3 linked regions of the Homo sapiens genome follow. The protein of the gene in region 2 interacts with the protein of the main gene of each other region in a pairwise test. Each region holds a gene or a part of one and is shown on either strand. Other genes may lie near its edges. The genes, in order: CCNDBP1, GSTK1 and FAM9B.

Region 1 (3,749 bases), on a different chromosome or scaffold from region 2:
TAAGAGTAGGAATAAGAGTACTTCAGGAGATACATACTGAAGTATTTAGGGGTGAAATGTCATTGCTGTCTGCAATTTACTCTCAAAACATTCTGGAATAAATATGAAACAGTATCTCTTGAGAAATAAACCAATATAGGAAAAAATGTGAACAACAGGCAAATCTAATAGAAGGATATAGGGGTGTTCACTGAAGGTACTTTTTAAACTTTCCTATAGGTTTGAAAAATTTCAAAATATAAAAAAACTGTGAAAACCTTGAGGTGACAACACAAATTGAAATCAGAACGCTGCTGCTCAGATGTTTCAAGTGGGGATCCCGCTTACCTAGGGCTGATTTCATCAGAAATATCCACAATGTCATCCAGCTGTGCCACCTGATCCTTCTTCCCATTCTCTGCCACTAACATCCGAATTTTCTTCAGGCAGGCTTTGGATGCTCTCACCAGCGCAAGGCATGGGATTATGAGCTCTTGATCGTCCTCTGACCAATACAAGTCCTGATTGCTGGGAAACCCCAACACATCATCCTCATGATTGTGGTTGTCAGAGTTGTTCTCCTCAGTATCATTCAAGAGGCCAGAGTAAGGGTCACATTCTTCCACAGCCTAAGACATACCATGATGTATGTGAATGCAAAAAAAAAAAAAAAAAAAAAAGGCGAGGCCTATTATTATACTTTTACCACGATGTCTTAGTTGTCCAAAAATCTTAGCCAGCCACTTCACTAAGGGCTACAGAGTTGAATCACTTCATAAACCCTGTTCTCGCTCTCCTTGTCCAGTAAGGGAACACAGAGGAGTGGTACTAAATCAAACACTAACAAGCAGTGGGAGATGGAAGACAGAGGACAGTAGTGAGAATGGGACCTATCTGGTCAATGCTCAGGAAATCTCTCTTTATAATTAATTCTCATCTACTAGTCAAGGAGTTGCCTTCCAATGATGGAGGTCCCCTCACCTGCTCCATTTCTTCATGTGCATCCTTCACAAAATCCACATTCTTGGTCAGCATCAAAAGAGCTGCAGCTTTGTTATCTATGAGTGAAAAATCAGAAGCACTAGAATTAGAGGAGAAATCCAACAATTTTCTTATGACTGCAAGGAACAATCACATTGTTCCTATTGATGGGAGTGCCAAGGACGGTTGACAAGGGTGCGGGTTTAATAAAAAATTCTCACTACATCCCCTGGTATCTAGATAGGGGTTTAAAAAGCTTGTATTTTATTCACAAGAAGAAATAAAATGGTCACATGATGTTTATCATCATGGTCCTCTTGGACAACCACTGTTTTGGCCTAGCTGTCTCTACCTCATAACTGCTTCAGTGTGCTCCATAATACTACTCTTGGGGTAGGACTAGGAAAACAAACCATACTTGTTCAACAAGAGACAGCCACAGCAAGGGGGAGTGGAATTTAGAAGTATGATAACTAGAGAATGACAAAAAGTATTAATACCTACCTATTAATTTCATTAATAAAATATATATATTTCACTAGACTGTTTATATAAATTCAAATACATGTTACAAAGCTGGAAGCTAGACATGAGGTCTCTTTGCTTTGGCCAGCAGACATGGCCCACTGCCCACTTTCACTCACCTCTTGGTATCTGAGGCATCTGCTGGCACGCAACCCAGACACTGTTGTAGGAAATAAGGTCATTGTTCTCAGGGCTGGGGAAAGAAATCAGTAAGGATATATTAATAACCTAGGTTCCTGTCTCCTAAAAAGCTTCTTCCTGCTGGTCATTACTCTCAGCTGTCAGTAACTTTGCTGTTAAAATGAGCTTTTCCCCTCTGAGGCAAGGAACCCCAATAACTGGTAACCTAAACTGTGGCATCACTACCTCTGAGTTGGAGTGACGGAAAGTACTTCCATGAGCTGAGCCATGCCATCCACGATGTCCAGGGTGGCGCCCCGTACCAGCTTTCTCAGGGTGATCCCTGTGGCCAAACCCAAAGAATAAGCAACCTGGTGTTCTTTTCAGAAGCACCATCTGCTTTCCTGAGTCTAAGCATTACAGAACTATAAGGTAATGTACACCCACATGCTTTAACCTACATGCTAACACAAAACTCAGGTCTTACTTATATCCCCATGGCATTTTCTTGCCCCTCCTGCCATTCCTTAGTGTTTTCTTCAAAAGAGATTTGGAACAAAATCTTTCCGTGACACCATGTATTCATTCATTAAGGACCGTGATCTCTTAACAACTGTAGATGAAACACTTGAAGTTTAAGCCACTTGAGTAACCCTGAAGATCCATGACATGTATTCAGTTATAATTTTGGCATGATTATAATCAATGCATGATTCTACAGGCAGGGCTGGAGGCCATTTAACCTATGCAGATGTTCAGAAATAGGGTGAGATATAACATGGGTGGAGGAAAGTAAGGATGGCCTGAGCCTGCATATGGGGCTGAGAGCCAGCCAGTATCTGTGGTGTTAAAACGGGTTGAAGAGGGAGAAGGCTGTGAGAATTAAAAGCCTTATGAGTCAGGCAAGGCAGGGGAGATGGGAAGTCATAGGAACAAAGCATCTGTATCTTAGAATAATGGCTTGTTTATATAAGTCACTTACATTACAAAATTATCCTTCACTGTATTTTATGGGAGAAAGTTACATGTTCAAGTTGGGTAAAGGTAAAAGTCACAAGACATAATCCACAATATTAGCAAAGATCTACACGATAAATGCAACACTTATGTGGCTTACCCTGATCCTTTGGAAGCAAATAGTACACTGCAATAAATGCCTTGATGGCAGCATGGACTTGTTCACAGAACTTCTGGGTTTCCTATGAAAAAGGAAACAGATTAGATCAAAGTGGTCAACCCTTCTGCTGTGGAATAGAGCAGATATTTCTTTTCTTTTTCTTTTCTTTCTTTTTCTTTTTTTTTTTTTTTTTTTTTTTTTTTGAGACAGAGTCTCACTCTGTCACCCAGGCTGGAGTGCAATGGCGCAATCTTGGCTCACTGCAACCTCCACCTCCCAGGTTCAAGCAGTTCTCCTGCCTCAGCCTCCCAAGTAGCTGGGATTACAGGCACCCGCCACCACACCCAGCTAATTTTTTGTATTTTTAGTAGAGATGGGGTTTTGCCACACTGGCCACACTGGTCTCGAACTCCTGACCTCAGGTGATCCACCTCCCTTGGCCTCCCAAAGTGCTGAGATTACAGGTGTAAGCCACTGCACCCGGCCTAGGGCAGATATTTCTACAGCATCATCAAACATTTTCTGAAGTCCTGGTATGAAGGCAGGCCTACTATACTCATCACATACCAGGGAGGAGTTAGCTATATAGTAGATATTGGGCTGACAACTCAATAAACCATTAAGAAACAGCAGGAAAAAACTTATTCCTGATACTCTGTATCCCAAGATATTCATGATATCTTAGACCAGGAGCTGGCAAACTGTGGTCCTCAGGCCAAGTCAGGCCCCACTGCCTGTTTTTGGAAATGAAGTGTATTGGGACACAGCCATACTCACTGGTTTTAATGTCTGTAGTTGTGTTTGCTCTATAAGGGCAGAGTTGGGTAGTTGGTTACAAAATCTAAAATATTTACTAACTGGCCCTTTACAGAAAAGAGAGGGAGGGAGAGAGACAGACAGACCAACTGACAGACCATGGTTATTAAACCATTAACCAGGTCTCTCTCTTTTTTTAACAGAATCAGAATATGTAACTAAAGGTAACTAGCATGGACTCGACAATGCTCCATGTTAACTATTTTCCTTC
Region 2 (3,749 bases):
CTTCAGCTCGCTCAAGGCTGATCCTGAGGTTTCCCAAGGCAGGCTTCACTTGCTTTAGTCTCCCGCAGCCCCTCCATCCTATCAATCCCTCAATCTCCGACTTCTGTGTTTTTCACTGGATACCCTGTCTACATCCCACTCTCTTCACCTTTTTCAAGCATCACAGACAAGAAATCCTTGGGGAAGTGGATGGGAATCTGGAGATGGTGTCTCAGGAGCTTTAAGTCATTTGCCATGTATAGTCCTTTGCGGGGAAGCAGACCTGGAGGCTTGTTTCCTGCCAGGAGAAGGTTGGGCACGCTAAGTGAGAAAAGACCTAAGGGTCCCAGGTTTGGGGACCTCGACGTGGGTTTTGGGCAGAGGGCAGCTTCCTTTTTTTTCTCTTGTTGTTTCGCTCTTGTTGCCCAGGCTGGAGTGCAATGGTGCGATCTCAGCTCACCGCAACCTCCGCCTCCTGGGTTCAAGCGATTCTCCCGCCTCAGCCTCCCGAGTAGCTGTGGTATACAGGCATGCACTACCACGCCCGGCTAATTTTGTATTTTTAGTAGAGACGGGGCAGAGGGCAGCTTTCTGGCTGCCAGTGCCAATATAAGGACCCGCTGGGGTCGGCTCTCTTGGGCCACTGAGATCACCCCTGCCCCGACCCTCCCTTCCTACCACTGTCTTTCATGATCCCTGTTATGAGGCTGGGCCGCAACTGCAGGTTGATGTTCCAGATATTCTGATACCGGCACAGGATCTGCGGGCAGAGGTCAAGAACGATTGCCAGTGTGCAAGATGGAAAAGTGAAAGAGCCGAGGGAAAGGGAAGGGAGGCGCTAAGTGCAGAGCAGGGGTTATGCGGACACCCTACATTGTTTGGTTTGAAATTGGCAAAACTCTCCTCACTACTAGAAATCTATTCCAGGATCTTCGCTCCTGTGGCCAGTTTTCCCCAAAACTGCCATCGTTGGGCTAAGAGGTGGCCGTGTTCTGCATTTCTCCCTGAATGTTTGGAGCCGCCCCTCTTTCCACCACCGTGGGAAACTGCAGTCGGGATATAAAGGCTCGGGTTGGAGCCAGCGACTCTATTCCGTTTAAAAGCACAAAGTGACCTTCAGCCCCGGAGCTCTCCCTGCTTGCCTTAACCCCTTGGGCGGCGCCAGGAGTTACACGAGACCTCTGTCCCGGAGCCCTGCGCTCACTCTTCCCTCCGCCCTCACTCCCCAGACACTGCCGAGGCGACCCCTCCCAGCGTCACCTCGAAGCCCAGCCAGGAGTAGGGGGACAGCACGTCATAGAAGAGCTCCACGGTGCGCGGCAGGGGCCCCATGCTGCAGGCTCCGGAAGAGCAGTGGCAGCAGGAGCTCCTTTTCCCGGAACCCGGCAGAGGCTGCCCAGCTTCTGGGCCTGCCTGGGACCGCCCACCGCCTTAGCGCGCAGCCTCAGAGAGAAACTGCCCTGGTAGAGGTCCACCTCCGGCGCAGCGGGGCAGGGCCAGCCTACGGCCCCCAGCCAGGGGCGGGGTGGGTAGGGACCCCTTGGGGAGCGCGCAGGTGTGGACAAGGGGCGCTGCAATCGCCTTTGCAAAAATTTTAACAGTGAGAAAATTACGAAGGTGAAACAGATCTGAACTCACCAACTCCATCGTGCCTTTAACCTCCAAACTGCCCTTGGTCATTCCTGAGCATGGGACGAGCTAATATAGGGAGAAATTTAGTTTATAGTTTAAATGATAATAGCCCTTCCCCAAACTAAACCAGTTTTATAAAACTAATAAAAGTCCACAAGTTTAGGATTATGAGAGGGGCCTGAATTCTGCTAAGATGTAGGCATTAACAATTACCAGACATTGTTCCAGAGGTCACAAGCTCTGCAACTTCCCCAATTATTCCTGTAAATAACCACTTTTGTAGAACCTAAGACTGGCCTTTGAAGATACCTTCTCAGACTTTTCCATTTCTAATGACAGGATGACTCCACCTGGACCAGTGACTCCTCTGTGGCCCGCATCCAAATGCAACTCGGTGCACTGAGGACGGTTTTCCACACCCCTGTGATTGCATCCCCAACCAATTAGCAGCACCCATTCTCTAGCCCCTTGCCCATCAAACTATCATTAAAAAACTCTAGCCGGCGGGCATGGTGGCTCACGCCTGTAATCCCAGCACTTTGGGAGGCTGAGGTGGGTGGATCACTTGAGGTCAGGAGTTCAAGACCACTCTGGCCCACATGGTGAAACCCTGTCTCTACTAAAAATGCAAAAATTAGCCGGGCATGGTGGCATGTGCCTGTAATCCCAGTTACTCGGGGGGCTGAGTCAGGAGAATTGCTTGAATCCGGGAGGCAGAGGTTGCAGTGAGCCGAGATCATGCCACTGCACTCCAGCCTGGGTGACATAGCAAGACTCCCTCTCAAAAGAAAAACAAAAACAAAAACAAAAAAACCCACAAAGTCCCCTAGCCTCTGCCTCCGAATTTTGGGAGGCTAATTTGAGTAATAATAAAACTCTGGTCTCCTGTTTAGCTGGCTCTATGTGTATTAAACTCTTTCTCTATTGCAATTCCCTTGTCTTGATAAATTAGCCCCATCTGGGTAATGGGCAAGATGAACCCATTGGGCTGGTGTCAGGGTGACTGTCCTGCTCTGCAGTGGAGTCTTGTGGGAAGGGGGTAGTTTGAGATGCCTGCAGTGCCTTTCACTTAGCTGTGCCCCTTGGGTGAGCCACTTGACCTCTCTGAACCTATTTCCTCATCCTGCATACACATGGGGAATATCTAATGATAACACCTGCCTTATGACGAGTTGTGAGGAATGAGGTACTCCAATAACTGCTAGCTCTTATTATTGTTGCTTGGCAGTTGCATGAATCTCCTAAACTGGGGCAGAATAAGAAGTTCTCAGAGTACACATTTTCTTGTGTTACCTTTGTCAGAGATTTGCACAATGTCTGGGACACATTTGACCATCGATACATATATTTTGAGTGAGTGAAAAAAAAGAGGGACTGGTAGAAGATGGAGAGGCCTCACTATAGATAATTTTGGTGATAATGGAAACGATTGGCCCTATTCGTTTTCACAAATATGTGAGTCATATTGTCTTATATTGGGATTACATTTACTGCAAAGAAACAGAATTTTAAAATAATTCCATTTAACTTTGTTAAAATTATTTTTAACATTACTAATTTAATAAATTGGAAAACATATAAAGATTCCACTTTTCATTTGTATCAATAAGGAAAACAACTCCAGGCTATCAGAATACAGAGATACGAGGTAAACCCCTACATGGAGAAGAGCATGCAAAATGGAATGAAAAATGATGTTATCATTACCTACTTGCAGAGTAAACTAATTGTTCAACAACCACTGAAACTAAACTTTTTTTTTTTTTGAGATGGAGTCTTGTTCTGTTGCCCAGGCTGGAGTGCAGTAGCACAATTGCAGCTCACTGCAACCTCTGCCTCCTGGGTTCAAGCAATTCTCTCTGCCTCAGCCTCCCAAGTAGCTGGGATTACAGGTGCCCACCACCACGCCCAGCTAATTTTTTGTGTGTTTTTGGTAGAGATGGGCTTTCACTATGTTGGCCAGCCTGGTCTTGAACTCCTGACCTCAGGTGATCCACCCATTTTGGCCTTCCAAAGTGCTGGGATTACAAATGTGAGCCACCACAGCCCACCTTGTTTTTTTTGAGACATGATCTCACTCTCGCTCAGACTGAAGTGCAGTGGTTCAATTTTGGCTCACTGCAACCTCTGCCCCCCAA
Region 3 (3,749 bases), on a different chromosome or scaffold from region 2:
CTTATGTGAAATGTTCTGCATAGAATAGAACAGTGATGACATGGTCCAAAGCTGACTTTTCCTAAAAGACCCTATCCGACAGGCAAAAGTGACTTAAACACTTTACCCCGTGTGTTCATCTGTTTCAGCAAAAGGTTCTCTTTCCCCATGCTCATCAGTTACATCTTCCTCCCTTGTTTCTGTAAAACGGTTTCTTTCCTCACATTCATCACGGACTGGATCCTTTCCTGCATTAAAATGTAAAAGACAAACCTTTTTTAGAGGAAGATGCTGCTGTGGACATTTTTTGTGGAGAAATGTACTAGTTGTAGACTTTTTTGGGGGGGGGGGGCTCTCTGCCAATTAAAGCTTTAAAGCAGAGCTATACATGGAATCACCGGTTCCTGACCATTTTATCGAGGGACTTTTGGAAGCCCTTCGGGTTCAGGTTCCAGTAAACAACGTACTACAGTTCAGACCCCTTGGATGTCAGGACTGCACCCATGGAGAAGAGCTGCTCTGAGAGCATCTGTAACCCTGCTATGAGGGGGAGCCTTCCACGGGGAAGCCTAAGGCCCTTGAGCCTGCTTTGAAAACCTGGCGCATCTTAGCACGTGCACAATGGACTCCAGAGCCACGAAGGGGCCTGGGGCCTCGGGCTGCCCCTGTGCCCCCAGCGCAGAAAGCAGACAGACCGTCCTCTTGGGCGTGCACCTTCTTCTGGGTCCCCTTGGGCTGTATTTACCTGCATGCTTCTTCCCCCAGGCCGCCATAAATTGAGCCTCCAACTGGGCCTTGGCAGCCCTCCTGCCCACAGGATCCGTGGCTGGTTGTCCTGGGAAGCTAGAGGCGATCCCCGAACCTGGTGAGCGCAAAGACACACTAAGGAAGCTAAGGAAACCTGGCATCGGAAAGGAAAGCCATTGGGATCACAGGTTCAAGAAGGGTGGGGCTGGCCCGCCCTGGGTCTCATGTGGGAGCAGGAAGGGACGGAAAAGATGCCAGTGTCCCCTCCTGTCCTGGCCCGTCCAGCCCGTCCCCGGGGCTGGCTGCAAAGCTCACAGCTGCCCCTCACACCTGAACTCCACGGCCTCTGCGGGATCCTCGCCGCCCTTTTGGGACAGAACTCAGCCCTACCTCTGAGTCACCTAGCGACCCCATGTGGCTGGGAGGGCCGCTGGGTGACACAGGATCTCCCCAGCCACCTCTAGGGGAATGTCAGGGGCTGCACTGCCACTCGCCCCCCTGGACGCACAGGGGACCCCCGGTGACCCCCGGTGACCCCAAGTGTCCTGTCCTGTCGGGCGGCCAGGCAGGAGGGCCCCACTCAGACTGTCCCCCACAACACCCCCGCCTCACTCCCACTTCTCCCCCCCTCGGCCCCTCCCCCCAACACATGCACAAGCCCCCAGGACCCTCCCGGGCCCTAGGGATCACCCAGGCAGCTCCAGCTCCCTCCCTGCCCTGGCCCACCCCAGCCCACCCTAGCCCACCCTCAGGGCCTCGCCCTGACCCAGGCCCCAGGCGACGACGCTGGGGCCATTTCCTCACAGGTCGGCGGGCTGCCCAGCGCTTCACACCCTGGTTCCCAGAGGGCCTCGTGCCTGCGTTCCCGCCTCCCCACCACGAGTGCTTCACCTGAGGGACCCCTGATGTGGCGCCCTCAAAGAACCTGCAGGCAGCGGCACCACTAGGACCTCTTAGAAAACGGGTCCTCTCAGGAAGCTGAGGCAGGAGAATTGCTTGAACCCAGGAGGCGGAGGTTGCAGTGAGCCCAGATCACACCACTGCACTGCAGCCTAGGCAGCAAGAGCCAGACTCCGTCCCAAAAAAAACAAAACAAAAAAACAAAAAAAAAGAAAAGTAAAGAAAACGGGTCCTCAGTTCTCGTGAGAGCTGCAGGCAGGACTTCCTGCGCTCCTCGCTGATTGGTCGGCTCAGTGCACATGCGTGTGACGGGCTGTGTGGGGCCAGGCCCCCTGCTGGCACGCCCTCACCCTTCCCCTAAGTGACAGCCCGTGGTTGCTGTGGACTGGGGTGGGGGTGGCCCTTTGGGGCCTCTGTCCCCACAATCTTTCAGCTTCTCCTCCTGGGGAGAGACACAAGGACTTGGGATGGAGGCCAAGTGGACAGGGCCTAGAACCTCGCCCTGGGGCTTGTTCCAGCCACCCCTGCCCCTTTGGCTAGAATGGCCATCACCCTGTGGGTGGAGCCCAGGCTCCCTCCCATGCCCTGTGTGCTTCCAACATGCCCAGCTGCGTCCTTTTTAATCAATGGATTGTGCTTTTATCGTTTGTGTTTGTTGGTTTTTGAGACTGAGTCTCACTCTATTGCCCAGGCTGGAGTGCAGTGGCAAGATCTCAGCTCACTGCAATCTCCCCTTCCCAGGTTCCAGCGATTCTCCTGCCTCAGCCTCCCGAGGAGCTGGGATTACAGGAGCCCAACACCACGCCCTGTTGTTGTTGTTGTTGTTGTTGTTGTTGTTGTTGTTGTTGTTATTATTATTATTGCATATTCGGTAGAGACAGGGTTTCACCATGTTGTCCAGGCTGGTCTCGAACTCCTGACCTCAGTTGATCCGCATGCCTTGGCCTCCCAAAGTGCTGGGATTACAGGCGTGAGCCACCGTGCCCAGCCCATAACCTTTTTTGTTTCCTCACTACTTTTCTTTCTCATCCTCATGCCCCAGACTTGCCCACAAACCTTCATACTCCAGACTTATCCAGACATATGCCACAACCTTCACCCACAAATTAATGCCTTAATACTTATCGTTAACTCAGCTTTTTCCCACCTCCGATCCCCTGTAATAGGGAGAGAGTTGTTTCGGAGTTGGGAGTGAATAAATATTGCCTAAAGTTTGTAAATCAAGATACAGAGTTTCATTATACTATTGAAATTATAAAGGCAGTCATCAGGAAAACTAATCCACAGCCTTAAATGCCTATATAACCAAAAAGAGCACACACAAAGCATACAAATCCTGTAGTAAAAGTTGGAAAATAAAGAAAATACTACAGAGACCATAACATAACATAAAAGAACAGAATTAAGGCCAAGTGAATCTGTTGAGCAAGAAATATGAATGAGATAAACTCGCATTCTAAAGGAAATGACTTCCAACTTGGATCAAAATAAAAACCTAAGTATATGCTGTATGTAAGAATGGAATTAAACAAAATGATACAAAAAGTACATATCAGAAAAATATGAAGAAAAGGAAAATATGGATCTGAGAATTGATATCTCATGAATGTAAAATAATGCAAAAAATAAATGAATAAACTAAAGGCAGAGTACACTGAACAAGAGAAGGGCACAATCTACTCTGACAATCTCACATGAATCATTTTGTGCTTAACACAGCATCAATGTGCCTAAACCCAAAACCGTAGAAAATAAAAGCAAAACAATCAATGAAAATGAACAGTGATATGAGAGTTTAAGCTCCGTCTGTCCAGGAGAGACCAAATACAAATGTATTGTCTTGGATACAGGCATAGTATCTTAAATTGCTCTCTTGGCAGTAGAGTGAGCATTTTCTTTCACTTTCAACCAATGAACCCTCACCACATCCTATAGTACTTCCTTGGCCACTACTATCTTCTATTCTACCTACAGTTTCCCAAAAGATTAAAAAATTAGAAAGACTTCATTCTCAGCAAACTATCGCAAGGACAAAAAACCAAACACCGCATGTTCTCACTCATAGCTGGGAATTGAACAATGAGAACACATGGACACAGGAAGGGGAACATCACACTCCGCGG

The links.
Region 1: the proteins of GSTK1 (region 2) and CCNDBP1 interact in binary tests that used the Homo sapiens proteins (3 or more experiments, as listed by UniProt).
Region 3: the proteins of GSTK1 (region 2) and FAM9B interact in binary tests that used the Homo sapiens proteins (3 or more experiments, as listed by UniProt).

The regions. Positions count from the first base shown.
Region 1 is NC_000015.10:43,188,254-43,192,002, reverse strand, and holds part of CCNDBP1 (cyclin-D1-binding protein 1), read right to left. Parts: intron 2,810-3,749; exon of another isoform or gene 2,805-2,809; coding exon 2,723-2,804; intron 1,949-2,722; coding exon 1,852-1,948; intron 1,679-1,851; coding exon 1,605-1,678; intron 1,038-1,604; coding exon 961-1,037; intron 609-960; coding exon 328-608; intron 1-327. UniProt on the Homo sapiens protein: May negatively regulate cell cycle progression. May act at least in part via inhibition of the cyclin-D1/CDK4 complex, thereby preventing phosphorylation of RB1 and blocking E2F-dependent transcription.
Region 2 is NC_000007.14:143,261,076-143,264,824, reverse strand, and holds the start of GSTK1 (glutathione S-transferase kappa 1), read right to left. Parts: upstream 1,385-3,749; 5' UTR 1,312-1,384; coding exon 1,240-1,311; intron 740-1,239; coding exon 658-739; intron 278-657; coding exon 149-277; intron 1-148. UniProt on the Homo sapiens protein: Glutathione S-transferase that catalyzes the conjugation of glutathione to exogenous and endogenous compounds. Significant glutathione conjugating activity is found only with the model substrate, 1-chloro-2,4-dinitrobenzene (CDNB).
Region 3 is NC_000023.11:9,032,235-9,035,983, forward strand, and holds the start of FAM9B (protein FAM9B), read right to left. Parts: upstream 1,894-3,749; 5' UTR 1,618-1,893; intron 1,050-1,617; exon of another isoform or gene 888-1,049; coding exon of another isoform or gene 753-887; coding exon 725-752; intron 228-724; coding exon 107-227; intron 1-106. UniProt on the Homo sapiens protein: May play a role in meiosis.